5 separate regions of the Homo sapiens genome follow, and regions 1, 2, 3 and 5 are each linked to region 4. The links come from fine-mapping of genetic effects on gene expression. A gene starts in region 4. Each other region holds a variant in brackets. All regions are shown on one strand. Distances are between the middles of the regions.

Region 1 (5,166 bases), 35 kb after region 4:
ATTGGCATTTGCTTATTGTTGAGATTGAGTTCTTTATGTATTTTAGATACAAATTGCCTTTACTTTTGATCAGCCTCAAATGAAGAGCATTTTTATCAGCTAAATAAACCTGGCTCTGTAATTGTGGATTCCAACCTCATATTCCTGTCTTGCCTTGTGTTTCAGAAAATATCTGAAGAGGTGCATAGGAATGTCACCCCTGGGCTATCACCAGCCATCAGGGCTGTGTTGGTACGCAAGCAGTCACATTGCCTCCCGATGCCCAGAACAAGGATGTTAACCGCACACTGGCTCCTGAAGCCAGGGAACATTCCCTTCAAGATGGCAGAGGAAAGGCGGGGGCAGTGGGGTCAGCTGGACATGCGTCACCCTACCGTGCTCAGGGAAGATGCTTCTGGCTTCCCCTGGGAGGCAGCTAGTGATGAGGGTCTCACAATGGAAAGGAAATGGAAATGTCTGTTCTTTGGGTTCAGCTCTCATGAGTCCACAGGTAGCACCGTTCATCTGGAGAAGGCCTTCACTTGCACAATCCATGATCTGGAAGCTTCTGTGGCAAGGGGCCGATATACGTCTCCCTACTTATCCATTGAGGAGCAATAAGGGTTGTGACTCGGGTGTGCGTGAAGGAGAGAAGCTCCAGAGCCCTTGTCTCAGGTGGCTTCTGGCCTTCTGTTGGCAGAAACCATTGGTATTCTATTATTTCTGTTTTTAAAAGGGACCTTGAGAACGGAAATTTTCAAGTGTGTTTTGTAACCCTTAGCAAAAGGAGAGCAAACACCTTTATGAAATTCTGGCATGTGGTCCTTTTAACCTTTCCAGGCAGTGTACTGGTTCATGCAAACTAGTGCTATTCCCTTCTTAGGGATTGGGGTGCTGGGTTCTGTGGAAGCAGTCCCAGTGGTGAGCTGGAGCTTGGGTGAAAGGTACGTGTGTGTACATACACCACTTTGTTACATAGTGTTATTGCATTAATTCTGACTGTCCAAAGTGATTCATTTGATGAAGGCAGAAATGCAGAAAGGACAGTCACACACAAATCCCATCTTCCTGAGGTAACCTCTGTTTCCTTCCTGCAATTAGAGCTCTGGCATATGCATTTCATGTGTGCATTTGAGGGTGGGGCTCAGCCACTTGGTAGTCTGTTTTCTTCCCTGTCCACGTTCCCAGGGGCTGTTTATCAGCAGCTCACATTGGTGGTTCAGAAGAACATTCGAGAGAGACAGCTGGGCTGGCTCCGTGTGCTTACTCTCCCTCGTCTACCCCATCCAACAGATTGTGAAGCCTGGTTCCAGTAACCTTGGGGATGACACCAAGGAGCGCTGAGCCCTCCACCCCGCATGTTGTGGTCTTGGGGGAGGGAGGCAGGTAGGACACAGAACAGGGTTCCTGCCCCAGTGGCTCCTCCCAGCTCTTGCTAGCCCTCCCTTGGCATCAGGCAGACCTAGGTAGCCTCAGGTCTTGGAGTCCCGTACAGAGCTGTTGCAGAGGGGGTCACTCCAACCTTGAAGCTTCTGGGGGCCTGGCCGTGGGATAGTGCAGAGTGTGGCACTGCTTTTCTTCCCGGCTGGTGTCCCTGGGGTCAGCTGCCTTAAGGTTAGGGCCCTGTTCTAGGTTAGGACAGGGAAGGGCTTAGGAAACAGGGCCAGCAGGATACAGGGAGGAAGGTGTGGGCACGGACATGCAGCGGGCAGGCCTGTGCCGGGAAGAGGGTGGGCTTTGTCTCCTGAGAAGAGGTGGCCCCCCAGAGCACTGGTCTCCCCACATGGCAGGCAGTGGGGCTCTGTTTCAGGCCCTCTCCAACGCACTTAGGCTGCGACAAGCCTGAGCAGGATGTAGGGGGCTACTAGACCTGCGGGCAGGGCTGAGGGACAGGGCCCGGGGCTGCCAGGTCACCTGTTCTCTGCAAGAGGGTTTTTGAACACAAGGGCTTTCCCAAAGGGTAGGGGTAACTTGCTCCTAGTGGGCAAGACCGAGAGCCCCTGGTGGCTCCATGGGCCTGGGCTGCTGCAGGAGAGGTCTGGGGGCTTTCTAGCTCCTCCCTGGGGGTCTGGAGGTTCCTAGCAGAAGCCCCGGCACTGTTCACCTGTTTCAGAAAAAACAGACCGTTGTCTAATTTGTTGTTGTTGTTGTTTTGTCTCGGCTCCCTCAAAAACCAAAGGCGTTTTTTAGGCCCGTCGTCCAAATTACAAGCTCATTTTAATTCGGATGTATTTACTTTGTGAAACCAACCCTGAAGAATACATTGTTTCGTTATATTCTGCTGGAAACCTTGCCACATTTTTCCTGAGAAAACTGAGCCTGCTGTGCACCTGGAGCCGGCCAGGTGGCAGGTGCTGGGCCTGGAAGAGGAGCCTGCCGAGGCTCCTCCAGGGCTTCTGAGTGCCATTGTTTTGAGTGCGCTGCCTGGTAGCGCTGGGCCCTTCCAGGGAACTGCCTGGCTCCTTCCTCAGCTGCAGCCTCCTGCTGCAGGGGAGCTGGGGACCGTGGAGGTCCCCCACAGGTCCTCAGGCCCACATGCCCCCAGCCTGGGCAAGCCTGCCGTGAAATAGGCCTCGTAGAGCCTGGCTGTGGGGGCAGCAGGGGCCCCTGGGTGCAGAGGGTAGCCTCGCCGCACTGTGGGTGGGTGCCCCTGCTTGCTCCTCCTGGAACGTGAACGTGGGCAGCAGTGTTCCTGTTCCATGCTGGGGAGGGGCTGTGAGAATGTCTTTCTTCCCGGTGTAGCCTAGCCTCAGGCCCACCCTTCTGGGTGTGTTACCTTGGTGAGGTCACTTGGTT[T/C]CTCACCTCTGACAAGGGTTTCACATCAACACTTTCCTGTCTTCCGGGTTGGTAGAGTCAGATGAGCCCAGTGCAGGCCAAAAGTAAAAGCTGCACCCCTGTAAAGAGTGTACATGCAGCTGTTTGTGCCATTGAGTGTCTGTAGCAGAGCTTAGCAGGGTGGGGTCCCTGCAGGCAAGGTCCCCCCCAGGAGACACAGAAGGAGAGGGCAGGGGGAGGAAATGAAGGCTGGGGGAGGGGAGACACAGGAAGAGGAAGTGGGCCACGATGGTTGCCAAAGGCTCTGCAGACAGGGGCCCCTCCCTCAGTTGCCTAGAGAGCCGGCTGGGAGCACGGGCACCTGGGGTGCAGAGCTGGGGCTGGCTGTGCAGGTGCTTGTTCGTGTCAAGAAGCAGTTGGACTTCTCTGTGAGATTCTGCAGATCTCCCCTGTGACTGTCAAGGCTGGTGCCCCCCACCCCCCACCCCAGACGTCACAGCCAGAGGCAGGCCCAAGAGGCCTTTCCATACTGTGTCCCTTTCCCTACCCACCACGTGCTCTGCCCTCTTTCTTCCCTCCCTCCCTCCTTCCTTTTCTCTTGGTGCAAGAGAAAACCCTTTCCCAGTAGTCCACAGATTCCCTGGTTCCTACTCCTCATGAGCCCCTACAGTGGCACTTGGGATCTGCATCCTAGTGGCTGGATGGACTTGGCTCTCCTAGCTGCCATCCACCTGGGCTAATTTTCAGCCCACAGTGGTGTCACAAAGTGGTCTTATGGCAGGAGTGTGGTATTCAGGAGCCTGAAGGGGGCTTCTGACGTGGAATTACAACTCTGGAACTGCTTCTGTTTAAATCCTTTGCTGAATATTTGTCACCCATAGCCTTTTAGGTCTGACCCGTTCTAAACTGCTGGGCCTATCAAACAATTTATCAGGGAGGGCCCTTCTCCAATAGGACAGTTTGCAGCGTGACCCAGGGGCTCTAAAGCCCTGGAGCCCTGCCCTGGGAACATCTCCTACAAAGCTAGATTGGACTTTATTGCTATTTTTGAGTTTCTCATCCTGGAAGCCACTGCCCAGCACATTCTGAGGAGAATCTGCCTGGGCGACCATTGTTATTTTAAGAGAGCTCTTGGGGTAATATGAGGAACTGTGCTTTGAAATAGGGAATACAGAATGGGGCCAGTAATGTGCCCAGAGTGTTGAATGTCTGATTTTTAAATTGGCATTATTGATGGCTAGCATTTTCTAGTTTGCTATGGATTTTTTGTTTTGAATTTAACTTTTTGAATAGGAAATGCATTTGTGTGTTTTAGAATCTAAAAGATTTAAGTAGTTTCCCCAGGGAAAATTCTGTCAACCTTCCCTGTTCTCCATCTGCTCAGTGTTCCCCTGGGTGATCTCTGTTCCTACTTTCCTAGGGACCCTCTCTCTGCACATACAGGCCAAGGCGCACGTAGATCCTTGCTGGTCATCTCTCCTCAACCTTGTTTTCCTCACTCAGCTTGGAGATCTTTCCATATCAGTTTGTAAAGAACTCATTCTACTTCTTTGCGATAGTGTTCTGTTATATGTGCGTTCCATAATTTATTTGACAGGCCCCAGTGGAAGGACATGAGTTGTTTTCAGGTTCCTGCTGCATTGACTAATCAGGAGCATATCCCGTTTTGTAGGTGTGCAAATGCGTTTGTAGGCTAGGATGTCAAAAGTTCAGATGTGGGTAAAAGGGTGTGCACATTTCTAATTTTAATAGGTATTGCCAAATCGCCCTCCATGGAGGTTGTAGCAGTTTGTACTCCCATCAGCAAAGAATGCCTGCTTACCTGCAGCCTCACCAAGGTGATAAGCTACCAAGCTGCATTTCAGTGTGTCTCATCTGCCATTAGCTCCTGATGGATGAGGTGGAGCATCTTTTCATGCATTTGAGAGCCATTTGTAGTTCCTTTTTTATGAATGGGCTTTGCCCATTTTTCTGTTGGATATTTTTCTTTTTAAAATTCCTGTGAGCTCTTTCTGTATTGGAGATTAGCCGTTTGTGATAGGAGCTGCAAATATTTTTTCTCTCAGTTTTGTCAGTTATCTCTTGCCTTTGTTTATGGTGACTTTGTTCATGGAGAAGTATAGTATACTGTTTTGTGCAGTCAAATAGATTGATTGATTGATTGAGACTGAGTCTCACTCTGTCACCCAGGCTGGAGTTCAGTGGTGTGATCTCAGCTCACTGCAACCTCTGCCTCCCACGCTCAAGTGATTCTCCTGTCTCAGCCTCCTGAGTAGCTGGGATTACAGGCGCTCGCCACCACGCCCGGCTGATTTTGTATTTTTAGTAGAGACGGGGTTTCACCATGTTGGCCAGGTTGGTCTTGAACTCCTGACCTCAGGTGATCCTCCTGCCTCAGCCTCCCAAAGTGCT
Region 2 (5,159 bases), 27 kb after region 4:
CTTGGTTCTTTGTACCTGTTCCATCCACTGGGTATTTAGAGAAAGTAGCTTGGCGTGTAAGGTGGTCTCTGGCCCAACTTCACCCCCTTTTTTGGTGAAGTCTGGGACTTGCACAAGCACTGGCTCTTTGGCTCAGCTTTCAGACCTTGAAGGATCCGCAAGGAAGCTTTGGTCTGGGTACAGCCCTTGAGAAGGGCCTTAGAGGTGGCCATGCCAGTGGAGAAGGTGAGGCTAAGCAGGCTCTTGAGGTGCGCCCATGGCCAGGCCAGAATGCAGGCCTGGCACTCTTCGCCCAGGCGCCTTCTGGGCAGCAGCAGTTTTGAGTAAGTAAGGAGCCTAATGTTTAATGGCCTTTGTGTAAGAACATGATGATGACAGCGAGAGCAGGGAGGCTGGGAGGGAGTGTGTGGATGGACATCCGAGTAAGAGTTCCCCAGTGTCTCCAGGAACCACTTGCTTTGTAAAATGACCCAAATCCACCATCCCTGGACCTGGCGCAGATTCTGAGTTGGGCCAAGGCCTGGGAAACCTGAGTTGGAAAGTCTTTTCTCAGCCCGTATCATGGACTTGCTTTTGGTGCTCTGGGCTGGGGTCAGATTTGTAAGTGTGTTCCTGTTGTAAGAAGTTGCCTTGCCAAAAGATCATCATTTGAGTGCCTGGCATTTGTTTTTATTTCTATTTGTGAAAGTCAAGCATGTTAATTAAGGATGATTTGAGAAACAGGAAAGTATCAAGGAAAATTAATGAAGAGGAAAATCAATAACTTTAATCCCACCACTCACAAGTCACCACTGTTAAAACGTGGGATCATTCCATACAAGTCATTTTCTGTTCTACATTTTCCTGCTTTAACATCCTGTTAGGCTCATAACCCCAAGGCACTGACTGGTTTCTAACCTGGTCTGAGTGGTTGCCCCGTGTGCGCTTGTCTTGCACTGAGAGCTCCAGTGATTGGCTGTCCTGGGACAGCCGTCCACCTCATTATTTTCAGGGGGAGTTCCCAGGAGCCTGCAAAGGAATGTGCATTTTCAGGGCAGGTTGCTTCTTTTCAGAAAGGAAGGATGAGTGTGCTACCCGCAAGCAAGGCATGAGAGCGCCCAGGTATGCACCCTGGCAGGGAGAGTGGGCGGGTGGCTGTTGGATGTCTAAAAGGGTTTTGCACACCGGGCGCGGTGGCTCATGCCTATAATCCCAGCACTTTGGGAGGCTGAGGTGGGCAGATCTTGAGGTCAGGAGTTCAAGACTACTGGCCTGGCCAACATGGTGAAACACTGTCTCTACTAAAAATACAAAAATTAGCTGGGTGTGGTGGCGGACGCCTGTAATCCCAGCTACTGAGGAGGCTGAGGCAGAGAATTGCTTGAACCCAGGAGGTGGAGGTTGCAGTGAGCTGAGATCACGCCACTGCACTCCAGCCTGAGCAACAGAGTGAGACTCCGTGTCAAAAAAAAAAAAGGGAGGCGGGGGGAGTTTTGCAGTGAACAGAAGTCACTGTTTAAGTAGAGTTTACACACAACAACAAAAAAAGGGTTTTGCAGTGAACAAAAGTCACTGTTGGAGTTTACACAACAGAGGGGTCGCCACGCTGCCCCGTACCTGGGAGCTTCAGACTGTTCCGAATAGGCCTCCCCTGGACACTGAGATCTTGGAGGCTTTGTGATCCAGCCTTGGATGCCGGGTCCTGAGATCTTGCAGTCCAGGGAAAGGTGAGATTGTCTCACAGCAGAGGCTTGCCTGCTGCAGGCCACGCTCAGGGGTTTCTACCTCCCTCAGTCCCAGTGTCTGCCCTACAGGCTCCCTTGGTCCCGCTCAGAATGCACAGACCTGACCGTACCAGTGAGAAAGGACAGGCTGTGTGAGCTCTGCCTGGCCCAGGTGTGGGCTGGCCACGGGCTCCATGCCTGCCTTCTCCATGGGCCATGACGTCGGCCAGCAGCCTCAGCAGCTGCTGAGATTAGCGTCTGTATGTGGTGCCACTTGGTGTGCCTCTGGCTCCTGGCCCTGTGCTGGCCCCGTGGAAGGGCCTGTCAGCATGTACTCTCTCCTGGGGACAGGAGCAGTATCTTCAGGGCTGGGTCTACCAACCCGGTCTGTGCATTTCCAGCCTCCTGTGTGCTTCCCAGCTCTGAATTATGACCACTGGGCTGATTTATTTCTTCTGACATTTGCAAGCTGTTAGGTGGCAGAGATCAGTGAATAAAAACTTAATAAAAGGCTGTATTTAATCCCATGCATCCTAGGCTGAGCCAAGTTCCCTTAGGATTGAGCATCACCAGATAGAACCCAGAG[C/A]CCACTGGCATTGGGACCTCCAGGGTGGCTACTTGGAGTTTTTGTGGGGAGGGCAGTTTCTTGACCGTGGAGCATGACGAGGCTGGACCCACCTCCCCGTCTGTATGCAGCCACCATGCAGCCCACCTAGGCTGTGGGCTCTGTTGATGCCGCCTTGGAGTGTGCGGCTTGCTCTGGGTGGGCCTTCCAGGGGAGGAGGGACTGCAGAGGTAGTGACAGGGAAGGGACCCTGGGCCAGGGGGCTGGGCTCAAGGGTGGCTCCACATCTGACTTTGTGGCCTCATTTCCTGGTCTGTCACTTAGGGAGTTTTGCTGGGGCCTGTTAAAGGGGGAGTGCCTGGAGGTATCAAAGCAGGGGCTTGTGGCCCTGGTCATCCAGTAGTTACTGGGGGTGTTTACAGCCGCCTGTGCTGGGCCTCCCCTGGAGAGGAAGTCACGCCCACGTTAAGTGCGTGGGAAACCTGTCCCAGGCGTTCTGTAACCGTAGCTGCAGGTGCTCTGGGTGTTGCCTCCTGGCTGTAGAGGGCCCCCTTGTGAAGAGGGGAGCCCCAGGTTGGGGGGCCTGGGCTGGCAAAGTCCCTGCCATCTGGCCTGCCCACTTGGGGCTGGCTGTGTTGGGCCTGGTCCCACCAGGGCTTGGGCTGCTTCCAGATCTGTTTTCATTTTCAATTCCCTTTATTGCTATAAAACCACTTCGGGGCTGCAGAGAACAAGCTGTTGTCCTCAGCTGACCTCAGATTCCTGGCCTCAATTGTTTGCCTCTTGCTAATTTTAGCTTCTGATCATTTCCACTCTTATCCTCCCCCCAAAGGGAGACACAGACCAAGAATAGCTGCTGGGAAGGGGGGCTGTGGTGGCTGTGGCCAGAGTTCCAACAGTGAGCTGGCAGGGCTGTGGAGTGGCTCGCTGTGGCCAAGCCTGGGGCAGGGGGCTCTCGGCAGGCAACCCCCACACCCTTCCCCTCTCTCACCGAGGACTCTATACTGCAGGCATGGGCCTCAGAGGAGAAGAGGACTTCACTGTTCCTTCTTTTAAACAGAAACCAGGCTGCTTCTGGGGAAAAAGTACACCCCCACAGCCCTGCCTAGCTTGAAGACCCCTGAGAGTCCCTAACTCCCCTGAGCCCTTCAGACTCCAGGACCCAGGTTGTAGTGTGGGGTCAGACGTGGCACTTGACTACAGCCAGGCCCTGGATACAGCGTCAGTGTGGAGGCCTCAGGCCTATCCAATCCCTACCCAGCTTGGCCCCAGAGCCTGGCACAGCTCTGCCCTCCCAGTGAGTGTCAGGCTGCAGTTGACTGACAGCAATGTCCAGTCCAGGACATCAGCCCAGGCCTGCAGGATGGGACTTTGCCTGCCTGGGGCAGGGAGAGAAGCAGCTGACCAAACCCCAAACCGTGGTGTGCTGGTGAGCAGGCCTGGGGAGAGCCAGAGGAGGGATGGGCTGAAATCCAGCGAGGAGGAATGGCCTCCAGGCAGGGCCTAGGGTTGCAATCCTTGTCCATATATTAATAGTTTTGTAATTTTTGTTTTTGTTTTTGAGACAGAGTTACACTCCTGTTGCCCAGGCTGGAGTGCAATGGCGCGATCTCAGCTCACTGCAACCTCTGCCTCCCGCGTTCAAGCAATTCTCCTGCCTCAGCCTCTCAAGTAGCTGGGATTACAGGCACCCACCACCACACCCAGCTAATTTTTTGTATTTTTAGTAGAGATGGGGTTTCACCGAAATGTTGGCCGGGCTGGTCTTGAACTCTTGACTTCAAGTGATCTGCCCACCTTGGCCTCCCAAAGTGCTGGGATTACAGGCGTGAGCCACTGCACCTGGTCATATTAATAGTTTTTAAACTTCTGTTTGGAGAACTTCAGACAGATGCCCACATCTTCAGGACACCCACATTTTCAGCACCTGCTAGCCCCCTGCAGTCTTATCTCTGCCCCTCCCCCACCACCGTCCTCTCCAGTTGTTTTGAAGGAAATCCCAGATGCAATATCAATTTGTCCATAAATATTTCAGTGCCTTACATCTTCAAATGAAAGCCTGATACGTCTAATTTTCATACTGGGCTAACAGTAAGTGTGAAGCAAAAAATCCAAAGCCTGAAGTCACCCCACATGACTTGGTATTGGGAATTGTGTGGATCCAGCCCTAAAACCCCCGGGCTTGGGGTTGGAGCCACCATTTAAAGAAGTGTTGGAGCCCATCTCGCCATCCCTCAGCCTCGAGTTATAACTAGTCATAGGTAAAAAGAAGGCAACCAGGACACAGGTGTTTATGAGATCAAAAGCAACAACAACCGAAACAATCAACAGTGCTACTAAGGTAACACAGATAGGTGAGGAAGAGGCCAGGTGCTCAGTAAGTGTCTCCTGTGGACGGTCCCTCACCTCCCCTGAGCAGAAGGGCAGGGTGTCATCTCCACATGCCTTGGGGAGATGGCAGGGCCAGCACTCTCCAATGGCTTCTGAAGAGGAGCTACTAGGAGAAGAAAGTGATGCTCTAAGGAAAGGCTGGACTGCCGAGAGCAGTATACCCATCCCATTTTGTAAATTATGTTAAAAATTGTGTTAGAGTAGTGCATGTGGTAATACACATAGCTTAAGGATCCTGTCTTTCTGTACGTTCATTGTGATAAGCAGGTCACCCCCACCATCTGCCAGCTTCTTCAGCTACTGCCTTTGGTATTTACCTTTCCCAGCTCGATAACGTGCTCATAGGGGCTCTTCTTGATGGTAGAAGAGTGTTAGGCATTATCTCCTGACTTCCCATGATGGCACATGAGCGCCTGCAGGCACCCTTCTCCCACCCATGTGATAATTGGATATTTAGGATGGAGCCAGCATGCGGTATTTTGGGGGATCATGACAGTAAA
Region 3 (5,169 bases), 62 kb after region 4:
CATATAAGATGGCAAATTTAATTGATAAATGTGTGTGTTCTCACTGCTCCACCAACCTGCCTTTCCCTGTCTTTCTCCCTCTCCTCAGGCCTCCCTATTCCCTAAGACACAATATCGAAATTAGGCCAATTAATAACCTTACAATTGCCTCTAAGTGTTCAAGTGAAGGGAAGAGTCACAGGTCTCTCACTTTAAATCAAAAGCTAGAAATAGTTAAGCTAGTGAGGAAGCCATGTGAGGAAGTCTCAAAAGGTGAGGTAGGCTGTGCCAAGTAGTTAGCCACATTGTGAATGCAAAGGAAATGTTCTCGAAGGAACTTAAAAGTGTTAACTCCAGTGAATGCATGAATGATACGAAAGTGAAATGGGCTTATTGCTGATATGGAGAAAGTTTCAGTGGCTTGGATAGAAGATCAAACCAGCCACAACATTCCCTTTAGTCAAAGCCTAATTCAGAGCAAGGTCCCTAACTTTCTTTCAATTCTACAAAGGCTAAGAGAAGCTACAAAGCTAGAAAAGAAAAGTTGGAAGCTAGCAGAGGTTTATTCATGAGGTTTAAAGAAAGAAAGTATTAGGCTGGGCGCAGTGGCTCATGCCTGTAATCCTAGCATTTTGGGAGACCAAGGCAGGAGGATCACCTGAGGTCAGGAGTTTGAGACCAGCCTAGCTAACACGGTGAAACCCTGTTTCTACTAAAAGTACAAAAAATTAGCTGGGCGTGGTGGCGTGCACCTGTAATCCTAGCTACTTGAAAGGCTGAAGCAGGAGAATCACTTGAATCTGGGAGGCGGAGGTTGCAGTGAGCCGAGATCGTGCCATTGCACTCCACCTTGGGCAACAAGAATGAAACTCCATCTTAAAAAAAAAGAAAAGAAAAAAGAAAGAAGGCATCTCCACAACATAAAAGTGCAAGATGAAGCAGCAAGTGCTGCTATAGAAGCTGCAGCAAGTTATCCAGAAGATCTAGCCAAGATCATTGATGAAGGTGGCTTTACTACACAACAGATTTTCAATGTAAATGAAACTGACTCTATTTGAGGAAGATCCCATCTAGGACTTTCAAAGCTAGAGATAAGTCAATGGCTGGCTTTAAAGGACAGGCTGGCTCTCTTGTTAAAGGCTAACACAGTTGATGACTTTAAGTTAAAGCCAGTGCTAATTTACCATTCGGAAAATCCTGGGACCATTAAAAATACACTAAATCTACTCTGCCTATGCTCTAGAAATGGAAGAACAAAGCCTGGATGACAGCACGTCTATTTACAGCATGGTTTACTGAATATTTTTAAGCCCACTTTGAGATCTACTGCTCAGGAAAAAAGACTCCTTTCCGATGAAACTTGAATGAATGAGGAGTTGCTTCTTATGGATGAGCAAAAACAGTGGTTTCTTGAGATGGAATCTACTCCTTGTGAAGATGCTGTGAACATTGTTGAAATGACAGCAAAGGATTTAGAATATTCCATAAACTTAGTTGATAAAGCAGTGCCAGGGTTTGAGAGGACCGACTCCAATTTTGGAGGAAGTTTTACCGTGGGTAAAATGCTATCAGCATTGCACACTACAGAGAAGTCCATCACTAAAAGACTAGTCAATTGGGTGTGGCAAACTTCATTGTTGTCTTATTTGAAGAAATTGCCACAGCCACCCAAACCTCAGCAACCACCACCCTGATCAGTCTGCAACCATCAACATTGAATCAAGACCTTCCAGCAGGAAAAAGACCAAAACTTGCTGAAGGCTTAGATGATTGTTAGCATTTGTTAGCAAAAAAAGTATTTTTAAATTAAGGTATGTACATTATTTTTATAGACAGAATGCTATTGCACACTTAATAGGCTACAGTATAGTTTAAACATAACTTTTATATGCACTGGGAAACCAAAAAATGTGTGTGACTCACTTTATTGTGATATTTGCTTTATTGCAGTGGTCTGGAACCAAACCCACAATATCTTTGAGGTCTGCCTGTACGAGAACTGGGTGGTGGGAAAAGTGGGGCTTGTTTTTCCTTTCTTTGTATTCACTGTAGGTGTGAAATGTTTGACAATTTGACAGTCTGTGACATGGTTCACAGATGTGGTTCCTGCATGTTATCAGGGCTTGGCCAGGTTCAGGCAGGCCTGCAGGCTGTCCCTACAACGGGCAGATTGAAGTGTGCACAGATGTCC[G/A]TGACAGGGCTGTGACCAGCCTGTGATCAGGCTGTGACCAGGTTGCTGCCTGGACCAGGCAGAGCTTTGTCCCATAATAGGGGTGCTGCCAGGGAGTCTGGCACCTGGAGCACAGCCACTGGCTTGGACATGAGCCATCAAACAGCATGGAATAAAAATAGAACTGCTTCAGCCGGAGAGGAGACAGGCTGAGCTCCTTGCTGGGAGGCCTTTAAAACAAGAACAGGTTTCATTGATCTGAGACTAGGTAAGGATGCTGCCACGAGTCAGGAAGGAGTCGAAGTCATCTGTCCTGGTACCTGGAAGTGCCTGAACATGATGGGCCTGGGTGGTTATTATTCTTCTCATCAGCTGGCACTGTAACTTTAGGTAAGCATTAGAAACTGTTTGTTTGTTTGATTGTTTGTTTGTTTTCCCTTCATGTCTAGGGTATAGAATGCATGCTCTGTGTACAGTTGGTGACAGTTGTAAAACTGAGAAAGTGCCAGTGAAAATGATTTTAAAAATGAAACAGAAAGGCTGGGTGTGGTGGCTCACGCCTGTAATCCCAGCACTTTGGGAGGCTGAGGAGGGCAGATCACCTGAGGTCAGGAGTTCAAGACCAGCCTGACCAACATGGAGAAACCCTGTCTCTCCATGTAAAAATACAAAATTAGCCGGGTGCGGTGGTGCGTGCCTATAATCCCTCTCAGCTACTCAGGAGGCTGAGGCAGGAGAATCGCTTGAACCCAGGAGGTGGAGGTTGCGGTGAGCCAAGATTTCAGCCTGAGTGACAAGAGCGAAACTCTGTCTCAAAAAAAAAAAAAAAAAGAAAAAGAAAACCAGTAAAATATGTTTATTTTATGGAGTATTGAGTCATGATGTTCAAGGACTTTGGAAGTAATTTGATTGTTGGTTTTATTTTTAAAATTCAGGAATTCTAATCATACATACGAACAAGGTTAAAAAATCCCAAAAAAAAAAAAAAAAAAAAACTAATGATAAGAATGTCTCTTTACCCATTCCCCCCACACACACCAGTTCTACCACCTTGGGATTAAACTTTTTTTTTTTTTTTAGGGGACTAAACTTTTTATCGCTTCTGTTTTTAATTTGTTTTTGTCGTTATTCCCTTCAGTGTTAATAAAATACTTGTCCTCCTACTTTGTGATTTATGAGTATTTGACAAAATACACTGGCTTCCTAATATGAAAGATGAATACCGTTGACCATTGAACAACATGGGTTTGAACTGCGTGGGTCCACTTCCATGTAAATTTTCTCTTGCCTCTGCCACCCCTGAGACAGCAAGATCAGCTTCTCCTCTTTCTTCTCCTCCTCAGCCTACTCAACATGAAGACAATGAGAATGAACGAACACCTTTATAATGATCCACTTCTACTTAATGAATACTAAATATATTCTTTCTTATAATTATTTTCTTAATAACATTTTCTTTTCTCTAGCTTACCATATTGTAAGAATGCAGAATATATCTCACATACAAAAGATGTGTTAATTATCTGTTCATGTGATCAGCAAGGCTTCTTCTCGTCAACAGGCTATCAGTAGTTAAATTTTTGAGGAGTCAAAAGTTTTATGTGGATTCTTGACTCAATGGGGGAGGGGATCAACGGTCCCAACCCCTATGTTGTTCAAGCATCAACTGTAATTACCTCCAGTCCCCTCTACCCTCTGCACCTTCTCCCTCCTCCCCCTGTGTTTACATTAGAGGAGTGTTTTAACTCTTCTGCAGATTCTCTCTGAAACTTTACATTAGCTCTTACTCCCCTATATTTACTACCATACCTTTGGTCTGCATCTTGACTCCCCTTCATGGAAGGTGGGAGTAGGATGGCCTCTGCTATCCACTCTCTCTAGGTCCCACAACACCATCCTCCTCAGCCTTTACTTTTGCAGCTTAGTCTATAGTAAAAGTGGAGCCCAGTGGATTCGAACTGCAACAGTGGGAGCCTCTACACCCCTAGGCAGTTGGGCATGTCACTGTTACATGTTACTCACTGCACAGCTAACCGCTGGGCCAGGGGCACATTTCTTTCTCTATGGGCCTAAAGTCATCAACACCACCACCACCGTCTCCAACCACACAAGGAAGATATTCTTAGCATCCAGAGCAAATGGGGCGAACTCATTTTGCCTTCCCTCAGGAACTGAAAATCCTATCCTATGTTAGTTTGCTTTACAGTGGAAGTTGAATTTTGTTATATACATTTTCCCTATAGCTTTTATTTGCCTTGCTTCCTTTTTATTAACAGAATAATATTAATAACAGAATAATAATGTGCCTTTGATGTGGCCTCAGTTTTGCCACCCTTTTATTCTCAAGACCTCCCCTGCCCTCTCCTACCCCATGGATCCGCACCCCCACTCCTTGTCCCTGAGTGGGAGCACAGCCCCGGACTCCCTTTACCACCCTCTGGTGGATCACTCAAGAGTCAATCCCAGGTCTTTCTCTTAGCTTTCTTTCTCACTTTGCTGGAATACATCCTCAAGTAACTATCCAAGAAAGGATGCATGGGACGATGGGTTTCTGCTTTTTTGAGTCCTTGGAGGTCTAACAGTATCTTTTTTCTACCCCATGCTTGATTCATAATTTGGCCTAGTATAGAAAACAAGGTTCAAAATTACTTGCCAATCATCTTCTTACAACCATTGCTACTGATGGGGATCTGATGCACTGCAGTTCTCAGCCTTTGCCGTGAACATTTTATTTTTACCATCTTCGAAATCTGTCAACCAATCTTACTCCCTGTTGCTCTGCACTTTTGTTCAGATATTTTTAGAGGCAGGTCATTTTTTCCTTGATCCTGCATTCCACGGAGCACTCCATCTGCAGACCCATGTCTCCTTAGGTCTGTTCCTTAGGTCTGCAACGCTTTCCTCTAATCTTGTATTGTTAATTGCCCTCCCTCTACATTCTTTTCTTTTGGAATTCCTATTAGTTGAAGGTGGATTTACTGAATCAGGCTTCTGTGTCCCTTATCTCTGTGTTCGGCATT
Region 4 (5,000 bases):
CCTGATCCTATTACCGTACCTCTGTCCTTAATTGTGCCTGGTGTCCACCTACCCAAGACGCTGCCTTTTAGTTTTTTCAGGTCATAAATATCCAGCCTTTCGTCAGAACAAGGAAGGGGCAGTTGTCAGGCTGCATGAAATTGGGGTGCAGATATGGGCATCTGAGTGCTCCTCAAGCTGACGTTCTGCCAATCTTATTTTCACCCCCGTTTACTCTCACATTCAGAGGTACGTAGTGCCACCCATTAGTGAACCTTCTGGGGGATTCCATGGAGTATGTTCTTAGCTTTCCTTCCTAGCTACTATCTCAGGGTTTCATTTTCTTGGATCTGCTAAGTATTTTAGCTTCAAGAACTGCGTTGCTGTTACTTCCTCTCTTGTTCTCCCTGTCTTTGTGGATTTCTGCCTTCTAACAAATGCTCCAGAAGGAAGTTAAAGTCAATACATACTAACCATCCACCAACTTTACCCAGAAACTCAACCACCCTTTCAGCCTTCAGTCTCTATACGCCCCAGACACACCTGCTCTGCTTTTCTGTTGCTTCCATTTGAAACGAGACGACCCAGCCCTCACATATACATATGCCATCTCTGTCAAAATCTTACTTAGAAAAGAAAACATGGACTCTTAGCTAAGAGGAGATTTTCTTTGGGGAAGAGCTGTCTGTCCGGAAGACCCTTCCATGTAGGTTTGGGATAAAGTCAGTGAACACCACGACAATCATCAAATGAGTGGATTTTTGAGAAACCAGCCAAGGAGCTCAGTTTTCTATACAGAATGCCACAGAGCACAGTCAAAATTCTTTGGGACCCACATTCTTGGAAAACTCTTAGGGGGGTGCATCAATGCAGAGGACCCTTGACCACGTAGGGCATCCCCTCACCCAAGGCAGGCCTGTTTTGTTCATGGCTGTAGTAGCCTAATACTAGAATAGTGCAGACTCTAGACGGCCTACCATTGTGTATGCCGGCTGGGGTGACCCAGTGGGGAGACGTGGCACCTTGAAGATTGGGGAGAATTCTGCTGGCTGGAAAGGGGCCAGGAGGGTATGGGTGGCTGATAAGCTGGTGTAGGACCACTCCTTCCTTAAGAAGTGACTAATTGTGACATGTGGTGGGAATAGAGGAACATTCCGAATCATTACTTGGTCAGGACACACGTCTCTTATTAAATGTCATCAACACAATCTGCCTGGAAGAAACACGATTACTTTCTACCAAGCACAGACCCTCCTAAAGGGACCAGACCCAGTCCAGCACCTTTAGTCTCCCCAGAGGGTAGCAACTCAATCAGCGAGACCGCATTTCAGGGTTTTAGTTACAGATACTGAGGGTGCTCAAACATCCATGCAGTTTGCTGTTCACCGTAACACGCAACCCAGAATGGCCGTTTCGGTCCCTCGTCGGTTACCTGAAAACCAGTCTTACTGAGCTCCAACCCCAAATTAATTTGGTGAGAACTCGAACTCGGCTATTAACCTTAATTCTGAGAGAAGAATGACACCCCCCTCCCACTGCGAGGGTCCACTGAGGGTGAGTGCCCGGGCTCCTTCATTCTCCAGGCTCCTCTCAGAACACAGCAAGGGTGGCTGACTCCTTCGAACGTCCATTAAGCACAATGCAACGGGGCGAGGCAGTAGGGGGTTTGCTGAGCCCGGTTCCGCGGCGGTGGGAAGTTATTCACCGGCGTCTCCGAGGACGGCCCAGGCCTGGAGAATGGCTGGGGCCGCGGGCTGGGGTAGGGGTTACCGTGAGAGTCAAGGGCAAGGTGGCCCAGCCCGGGCTGGGAGGCGCGGGCTGGGCGCAGCCGAGCATTTCCTCCGGGAGGCCCAGACAGCGGGCGGGTGGGGCGCGGTGGGCGGGGTCCTCGCAGCTGGTGGCGTTTGAAGCCCCCCCGACCGCGGTGGGAGAGGGGCAGCCTAGAAGAGTTGGCAGCGGGCCTGCGGCGGGATGGGGAGGAAGGGGCCCCGCGTTCCCTCAGCAGCGGCGCCGGCCGCCCTGGCACGTAGTTCGCTTCTGGAGGCACAGGCCGCGGTGGGCGCGCCACCCGGGCTGCCAGGCTCACCGCCAGCCGAGGCCAGTCCTGCTCGGGCTGACCCGAGCTGAAGGGCAGCGCGGCCGCACCCCGGACCCCAGGAACGAGCCCGAGTCTGTCCCTCCCGCGGGAGCTGCCCCGCCCGGACTCCCGGAGCTCTGCAAGGCAGGGGCGTGGGGAGGGCGAGCGGCCTGAGGCTCTAGGCGCGGCCACCCGGCAAGCCGGCGGCGGAGGGCGCGGCGCGAGTGCGTTCCGCCCCTAGGCAGCCCCGCGCCCGGCCGGGCAGACACGCCTCCCCGCCGGCGCCCATCGCGGGAGGAACAAATGGCGCCCTCCAGAAACCGCTCCCCTCCATGCCGGGGGCCAAGGCTGTCACCACATAAAAGCTCCGGCAGAGAAGTGCTCGCTGTGTCCCCGCCGCGGGGGGTACAAGCAGCCGCTCCGCGCCGCGACTACCCGGCCCGCCGCCCCCGGACGTCATGCGTCAGCGCGCCCCGCTCCAGTTTCCGCCCCTCCTCCCACCGGCCCAGGGGACACGCCCACTGGCGCGCGCAGGGCCCGGGACCGGGCACGCCCCTCTAACGGCTCGGATTGGCCTGGCCGTGCACTCACGGACCAATGGCGTCTGTCCCGGCCCTCGGTCACGCCCCCTTGCCCAGGCGCGGGCACGCGACCGCTCCGTTCCGCCGGTGCGCGCTCTGGGGTCCCCGCCCCCTCCGCGCGCGCAGCTCCCCGCAGCCGCCGCCGCCTGTAACCTGCGCCGCCAGGATGTGGCTGGGGGCTGACGTCGGGTCCAGATGTGGCCCCGGCCCCGCCCACCCCCGGGGCCGGGCCGCCCACACGGAGCCGCGGCGCGCACGGCAGCTGTCCCGCCTGCCACAATGCGCGGCGAAGCTGCGGCCGCGACTTGGCGAGGTGGTCCCTAACGTTGCCGCTCGGCATCCTTAGAACCGGCCGCCCCTGACGCCGCGCGGGGACCCCAGTCGCCCGCGCGCCCCATGCGCTCACTCTTCGGTGCCCGGCCGGGCCGGCGCCTCGCAGACGCGGAGCCGCGCGGGTGACGGCACAGGCGGCTGCGCGCCCAGCCCAGCCCAGCCCAGCCCGAGGAGAGGGCGCGCCGCGCCCCCGCCCCCCGCCCGCTCTCCCGAGGCCGTGGGTGCGGATGCGCGGCTGACGACTCGCAGCAAGAGCACCGCCGCCGGCCCCAGCCCGCAGCATGGCAGCCGCCGCCTATGTGGACCACTTCGCCGCCGAGTGCCTCGTGTCCATGTCGAGCCGCGCGGTCGTGCACGGGCCGCGGGAGGGGCCGGAGTCCCGGCCCGAGGGCGCGGCCGTGGCCGCCACCCCCACGCTGCCCCGCGTCGAGGAGCGCCGCGACGGTAAGGACAGCGCCTCGCTCTTCGTGGTGGCGCGGATCCTAGCGGACCTCAACCAGCAAGCGCCGGCGCCCGCCCCGGCGGAGCGCAGGGAGGGCGCCGCGGCCCGGAAGGCGAGGACCCCCTGCCGCCTGCCGCCGCCCGCCCCCGAGCCCACCTCCCCCGGCGCCGAAGGCGCGGCGGCCGCGCCCCCCAGCCCGGCGTGGAGCGAGCCGGAGCCCGAGGCGGGGCTGGAGCCCGAGCGGGAGCCGGGGCCCGCGGGGAGCGGCGAGCCCGGCCTCAGACAAAGGGTCCGGCGGGGCCGAAGTCGCGCCGACCTCGAGTCCCCGCAGAGGAAGCACAAGTGCCACTACGCGGGCTGCGAGAAAGTTTACGGGAAATCTTCGCACCTCAAGGCGCACCTGAGAACTCACACAGGTCAGTGGGGCGGCGCGGGCGCCCGGATCGCGCGGACGGGGTCGGCGCGAGCTGCCCGACCACGCCCCCGGAGTCCCCGATGGGGCGCGAGGTGGGGGCCGGGCGGGCCGGAACGCCCGGGGCCTCGCCCCTTCCCCTGCCGCTCCGACCCGCGGCTGGCCCCGCGCGTCGCGCGAGGCGGGTCTTGGCTCTCGGAGCCGGCGCCCGCCAGGCGACCGCGCCCCCGCCGGGCACGCCCCCTCCCCGGGCGCGCTCGGGTGGGGCCGCGGGGGCGGATATAGTCATCTGGGCTGGGGGCGGGGACCCCTCCCGGCCGGGAGGCGGCGCGGGCAGGTGCGGGCGGCCTGGGTGTGGACCGCAGGCGGCACTCGTGACGGTGGGGCGCCCGGAGCGGGGGCAGGGGACGCTCTCCGGGGTCCCTCCTCGTTTCCTCCCCCGCTGCCCGGGCGCGCGCTCAGGAGGGGAGGGGCCGGCCCCGGCGCGCGGCGGGCGAAGTTCACGCAGGGACAAGGTTTCCTTCGCCACTCGGCACATTCTTCGCTCTCTTCTTCCTGTAATTTTTCCAGCGCTCTAAGGTTTAATTTGTCGTAACCAAAGTCAGCGGCGGCGCTTGGCGATGCGGGGGGCGGTCCCGGGTCCCGCTCCCCGCCTGCGGCTCTTTGTGGGAGCCCCCGCCCATCCGGCCCGGCGGGGGCGCGCCCGGCCCTAGGCTCCTCGGCCTCGAGGCTCTCTCCGGAAAGGAATGCCCTGGCCGCTGCCCATCCTCCGTGCTGCCCTCTCGCCTGCCCACCTCTCACCTGCCCTGGGCCGGTGCGGGGCGGGCGGCACCTGCACCAGGGCGGGCGCTGAGCCTCCAGCCTGGGGATCACCGCCCGCCCCCGCCAGCCCAGCGGCAACAGTTCCCACGCGCGGCCCGATACTTTGTAGTTGATTCATCTGTGGCGGTTCCCTCCCCCCTTTTTGTTTCGTTTTTAACATAAAGATGAAAATATTTTAATGGACGGCAATCCTTCCCCATTTTGGTGTAAAGAATTGTATGCTTCCTCTGAGCTCACGTGAGTTCTTCTGTGACACTCACCTCTTCTACCTTGGGGGCAGGCTCAAAACCCGTCTACTGAATACTGTTGTCTTGTGACCAAGGGTGGTGGTCTCTCATTTGTAAAATAGTTCAC
Region 5 (5,000 bases), 47 kb after region 4:
AATTTTTGTATTTTTAGTAGAGACGGGGTTTCACCATGTTGGCCAGGCTGGTCTCAAACCCCTGATCTCAAGTGATCCACCCGCCTCAGCCTCCCAAAGTGCTGAGATTATAGGCATGAGCCACCGCGCCTGGCCGTTTTTGCTCTCTGAACTTCTTTGTATGGTATCCTCTTTGCTTTTGCATCAAATTTCATCTCAAATTCCTCAGAGAATACTAATCAGAAATTTCAAGTTAAAATTTTCTTCTCTTTCCTGGCTTCACTCTTTTCCTCTAGAGTTGGTGGTTGCATTGCGCTTGGCCTTTCTTTTCCATGCTGCTGGTTCTCCCTGGCTGTCTGGCCATCCCTGGGTATCTGCTTGTGTTTAAGGTGGGTGGGTGAGTGGGTTTCCTCTGTTGAACATGGGTAGACCAGCTTCAGTGACTGGCAGTCACTTTAGGGTCTGTATGGGGGTGAGAGGGGATGAGACCGTGTAGGAAGGGCAGCCCTGCGGCCACCCCTAATACAAGAAGGGCTCGTTTCTGGGGTGCCAGAGCCCCCCACCCTGGTTCTTCCTGAGCAGTTGATGTCATTTTTGTGATTCAGAGTTTTGTGTGTTGAGTTTGCCTGGGTAAATGCTGGCCTGTCTCCCGCTCCGAGTGAGGGATGGGAAGGAGGGAGCAGCATCCTGACCGTAGCCAACCTTCATTACCTCCCACCCCACTGTGTTCTGCCTCCTCCCTACCGGCACAGGCCCCTATAATGGGGTGCTCTGGGTTGCTGCCCTTGTCTGTCACCACACTTGGGTCTGCAAGAGGCTGTTTCATTCTCCTGCTCTGCCAGCCGTCCCTGGTTGGTCACTTTGGGACTTTTGTGAGAGAAGGAGCAGCAGACTGGTTGTAGAATTCCAGGCCCCGGAACTCACCTACGCTGACCCTCTCATGTGACAGACTAGACTGAGGAGGGTCAGAATGGGAATTGCCTTCCTGCCCTGCAGGGGTGCAGAGTGTGGCTCCCATGGAGCAGCATGGGCGGCTGGACTCCGGGAGGCCTGTGAAGCCAGGGCATGGGCCTGCAACCCCCAGGCGTTGGAGACCACTGGCCCGGCATGGGTGTGTAGTGCAGCCTGCTTTGTGGTGTACTTAGGGGGTCCACTGCCAGGAGCCTGGGGCCCTGACCTGTACCTACCCATGGGCCCTGCAGCTTCAGCACCTGAAATGCTGTTTTATCCTAGGCCGTGTCCTCTGCCTCCATCCCAGGCGTGGGCGGGAGGGCAGGGGCCCACCTTCATCTCTGCCTTGATGGATTTGTCACAGAAGCTCTTGGAGGTGGGGCATGTGGGAGGGGTGTTGAGAGACCAGGGTGTTGGGTGTTGCGGGCCCTTCCCCAGAGAGGGTGTGAAGGCGGGGCCAGGTGCGGATACTGATGCTCTGCCCCTGTGCCCACAGGTGAGAGGCCCTTCGCCTGCAGCTGGCAGGACTGCAACAAGAAGTTCGCGCGCTCCGACGAGCTGGCGCGGCACTACCGCACACACACGGGCGAGAAGAAGTTCAGCTGCCCCATCTGCGAGAAGCGCTTCATGCGCAGCGACCACCTGACCAAGCACGCGCGCCGCCACGCCAACTTCCACCCGGGAATGCTGCAGCGGCGCGGCGGGGGCTCGCGGACCGGCTCCCTCAGCGACTACAGCCGCTCCGACGCCAGCAGCCCCACCATCAGCCCGGCCAGCTCGCCCTGAGCCCGCCACAGCCATGAGCAGCCGCTCCCACCCCCTCGTGAGTCCCTGGCCTTTCCTTTTGTAATAAGAAAGAAGAGAGAGAACTTGATGCAAAGTCCACGAAAAAACAATTTTTTTCACCTCAGGTGTCAAAGTAAATTTGTTAAAAAAACAAAAAAAACACAAAAATTTCAAAAAACACCACCCACCAAATTGCACAATAGATACACCCACAAAGTTGAGATTCAGCGTTGTTGAACCCCCTTTCTCAGGGATGGACACGTTTCACGAGGTCAGTGAGGACACCCCTTCCTGCCGCCTTACTCTGTACATAGATTTGCACTCTGGAGTTTTCTGTTAGGTTCGGGAACACGCTGGGGACAGAGCAGGCCAGCCAGTCTGGTGGAGCTCAGCGTCTGGCTGGCTGGCCAGCCTGTGGGTCTGTTGGGAGCAGATGTGCTCACTGACGTTTGTGCCTCCAGGGCAGATTCCTAAGCAGCTGGCCTGACCTCTTCCTGCCCAGCCCCCAACCCAGTCTCTGGCCTCTGCCCAACGAGCCTGGCTGGGCTTGCAACGCAGCTGATTCTGAGACAGGCCCCTGCAGAGGGATGCCTTAAAGCTGTCCCTGGCTGGAGGAGCACTCCACCTTGGGGATAGTGGAGGGGGCCTTCAGCCCTCTGCACCCTGCCTGCCTCACACCCCGCCTTCAGGAGCCCTCTCCTACGGCGCTAGGGAGCACTGGAAGCAGAGATGCCAGCCCTGGCTGAGCGTAGCACTGCACCGTCCGACCTCCGAGGCAGGGGCCGGGGTCACACCTGCCAGGACTCCGCTTCTCCGTGTCCCAGCAGAAGGCATGCAGGACCCTGTCACTACTATACCTGGGCCTCTGATGGGGAATTCTGGTCTTCTAAAAAGATGTTAGAAATTCCTGGTGGCACATCCAGTTCCGAGTTTGCCCGCA[C/T]GGGCACTTTTGTTGGAAACAGTGGGCAGGTCATGGGGCCTCCTCATCAGAGGGTCTGTGTGAGCGGCTGTGCATGTGGCAGCGCACCATGCTTCACAGAGACCATTCTGTAGCAAGAGACCGGAACATTGTGACTTGGACCTTTTCAGGAGTGGCGCGGATGTTACAGGAAATGCTGTCGGAGAGCGCGCATTCTATTTCCTCCGCAGGGAATGCCAGATAGAAAGTTGCGGGCAACACTTTTCTCAGACCCACCATGTCCCCAACTCAGACTTAGCAAACCTCCAGCCTCTCCGTTTCCCCTGGACTCCTCCTCCCTTTTCCTCCTGCTTCTCCTTGTCCTGCCTGGAGGCTCCAGGCCACACCCAGCTGGTGGGGCTGCTCCAGTGCCCCATCACCGGCCTTCTCCTGGCAGGAGAGGAGGAGCAGAGAGCTGGGTCCTGGGCTGGGATTCGAGCCCTGGGCGGGGGTCAGTCAAGCCGTGGTCCAGCAAACTCCTCTGCAGATGGCTGGAGTGTTGACCCAGGCTTGTGGCCCAGGTATCACCTTCCCTTCCTCCTGAGAGTTGAGGCCTGTAAATACAAGGGCCCAGGACAGAGTGTGTGCGTGCGTGTGGGTGTGTGCGCGCGTGAGCACACACGCGTGTGTTGGGGGGGGTGGGGGGATTGGGGTGGACTCAGGGTATCTTGCCAGAGATACCTGTTTTGATGAGTACCTATTTTGATGCAAAGGAACGGCCCTGGGACCTCAGAGGGCCACAGATGGGCTTCCTGGGCCTAGCGTGCCTTGGTTGTGGCCATCCTGCTTCTACTCAGCCCTGCCATGCTATGGGGTGCAGCACAAACCCAGGACCCAGGCCTAGCCACTGCCCACAGCTGATGGTCACTGTTTTGGCTGGCTCCAGAGTGGACAGGTACGCTCTGTCCACAGCAGCTGCTCAGGCACAGTATGCCGTCAGGTGCCCGCTTCTTACCACTGTGTGTCAGCTGGGATTGGCCGACAGCGTGGTGGTGACTTCTAGGTAGACCGATGGACCCTAAATTGGGCAGTGGCATTGTTTCTGCTGTGGTGGGAACTGGCAGGGAGAGGGTCACCTCCACTCTGGTTGGATGCGGAGCTGGTCCCTCTGGCTGCCATGCTGTGTTGGGGCTCTCTGACCTCCCTGCTTGCATTGGGTCTGGGAGAGAGAGTGGAATATTTGGTAGGGACCTTGACAGAAGAGAGCCCTGGGTGCTTGTGGTGCAAAGATCTTCATGCCCAGTTCCAAAGTGAGGTCCCTCCCAAAGTTGTTTTCGTGTGAGGCAGAGAAAGCCACACTCTGAATACATTTTATGTCTCAGGAATTCACATTCCAGGTTCAGGAATTTTATTCCAAAGTCCTTTGGTGCACTCACCGTCCACCGTTCCCCAAGGCAGGGAGAGGGAGTGGCCCGTCCCTGGGAGGCTGGCAAAGTGCTCTCCAGGGAGGGGTCAGACGTCCTTGTGATCTGCCCAGGGTGTCACGGAAGGAGATTTTCTAGCTCCACATCTGTCTGCACATAGGAAGGAAAAGATAGGACTCTAAACCTAGTCATCTTGGAATAAAAAGAAGAGCTGGTTTGTTTTAGAGCAGGGCGGGGGGTGGGGGAGGGAAGCGGGTGTTGGCTGTTTCCAAAGAGAGCACTTAATTTAATTTTTCCTTTAAATGACCCAGGGCTGTTCCGTCTGATAGATGGAAGGGTAACATTGCCTTAAAACAGAAATATGCAGGCGTTGGCTATTTTTGGCATAAGAGCGTGTCTTCATTCCCAAAGTGGTTCTCGTTTAATGGCAGGGTGCGGTCCTTAGGCCCCGGCCTGGACTGGGAAATGGGGGTAGGGCACCAGGAGAGAAATCCTCCTGGGTACTCCTGGCCAGACCCTCCTGAATCATCTGCGGCTTAAACTCATCTCGCTTGAAGGGCAGGGAGAAACCCATGAATCTCAGGCACGGTTCACAGGGGTCCTCAAGGGCAGGTTTCCATTTCATCATGAAGTGAGGGACTCCTGTGGAAGAGGGTGGTGGGCCTTGGAACGCTGCCTCCACTGAGGCGGGCACACAAGGCGGACCCTCCTGAAACAGCCTCCATTTTCTTCAAACATGCAGAATGTTTTCCCAGACTGCGTCTATTTCAGGGTCTTCCATTTTTGTGGTTTATGGCCATGCTTGCCAGTTTTGGTGGGGTTGAGGAACCCATAGGACTCATAGAAATAATAGTGAAAACTCAAACCCTTATTTTGGGACTTCAGTTCTCGTGGTCCATAGGGGCAGAGATGTCAAAGTGAAGGTTGCCTGAGTGAAGGGAGAGTTCCCCTATAAAAGGCCT

The links. PIP is the estimated chance that this variant, and not a neighbour inherited with it, causes the effect.
Region 1: its variant is the best candidate, but not a certain one, in a credible set for the expression of KLF13 in whole blood (TOPMed, PIP 0.66).
Region 2: its variant is the best candidate, but not a certain one, in a credible set for the expression of KLF13 in whole blood (INTERVAL, PIP 0.81).
Region 3: its variant is the best candidate, but not a certain one, in a credible set for the expression of KLF13 in whole blood (TOPMed, PIP 0.81).
Region 5: its variant is the best candidate, but not a certain one, in a credible set for the expression of KLF13 in whole blood (INTERVAL, PIP 0.74).

Annotation. Positions count from the first base shown.
Region 1 is chr15:31,358,588-31,363,753 of GRCh38, forward strand. The region is part of intron 1 of KLF13 (KLF transcription factor 13); the gene reads left to right. Among named protein-coding and RNA genes, the nearest start is that of KLF13, 34 kb to the left of the region's middle. The variant T/C (reference allele first, on the strand shown) is at 2,776.
Region 2 is chr15:31,350,569-31,355,727 of GRCh38, forward strand. The region is part of intron 1 of KLF13 (KLF transcription factor 13); the gene reads left to right. Among named protein-coding and RNA genes, the nearest start is that of KLF13, 26 kb to the left of the region's middle. The variant C/A (reference allele first, on the strand shown) is at 2,290.
Region 3 is chr15:31,385,643-31,390,811 of GRCh38, forward strand. It overlaps a transcript of KLF13 not described here. Among named protein-coding and RNA genes, the nearest start is that of KLF13, 61 kb to the left of the region's middle. The variant G/A (reference allele first, on the strand shown) is at 2,171.
Region 4 is chr15:31,323,962-31,328,961 of GRCh38, forward strand. It overlaps KLF13 (KLF transcription factor 13), which reads left to right and starts at 2,874. Exons shown (of 2, transcript NM_015995.4): 1 at 2,874-3,828. The coding sequence starts at 3,252. RefSeq lists a promoter at 1,999-3,055 and an enhancer at 2,083-2,596.
Region 5 is chr15:31,370,584-31,375,583 of GRCh38, forward strand. It overlaps KLF13 (KLF transcription factor 13), which reads left to right. Exons shown (of 2, transcript NM_015995.4): 2 at 1,427-5,000. The coding sequence ends at 1,716. Among named protein-coding and RNA genes, the nearest start is that of KLF13, 46 kb to the left of the region's middle. RefSeq lists an enhancer at 3,247-4,234. The variant C/T (reference allele first, on the strand shown) is at 2,657.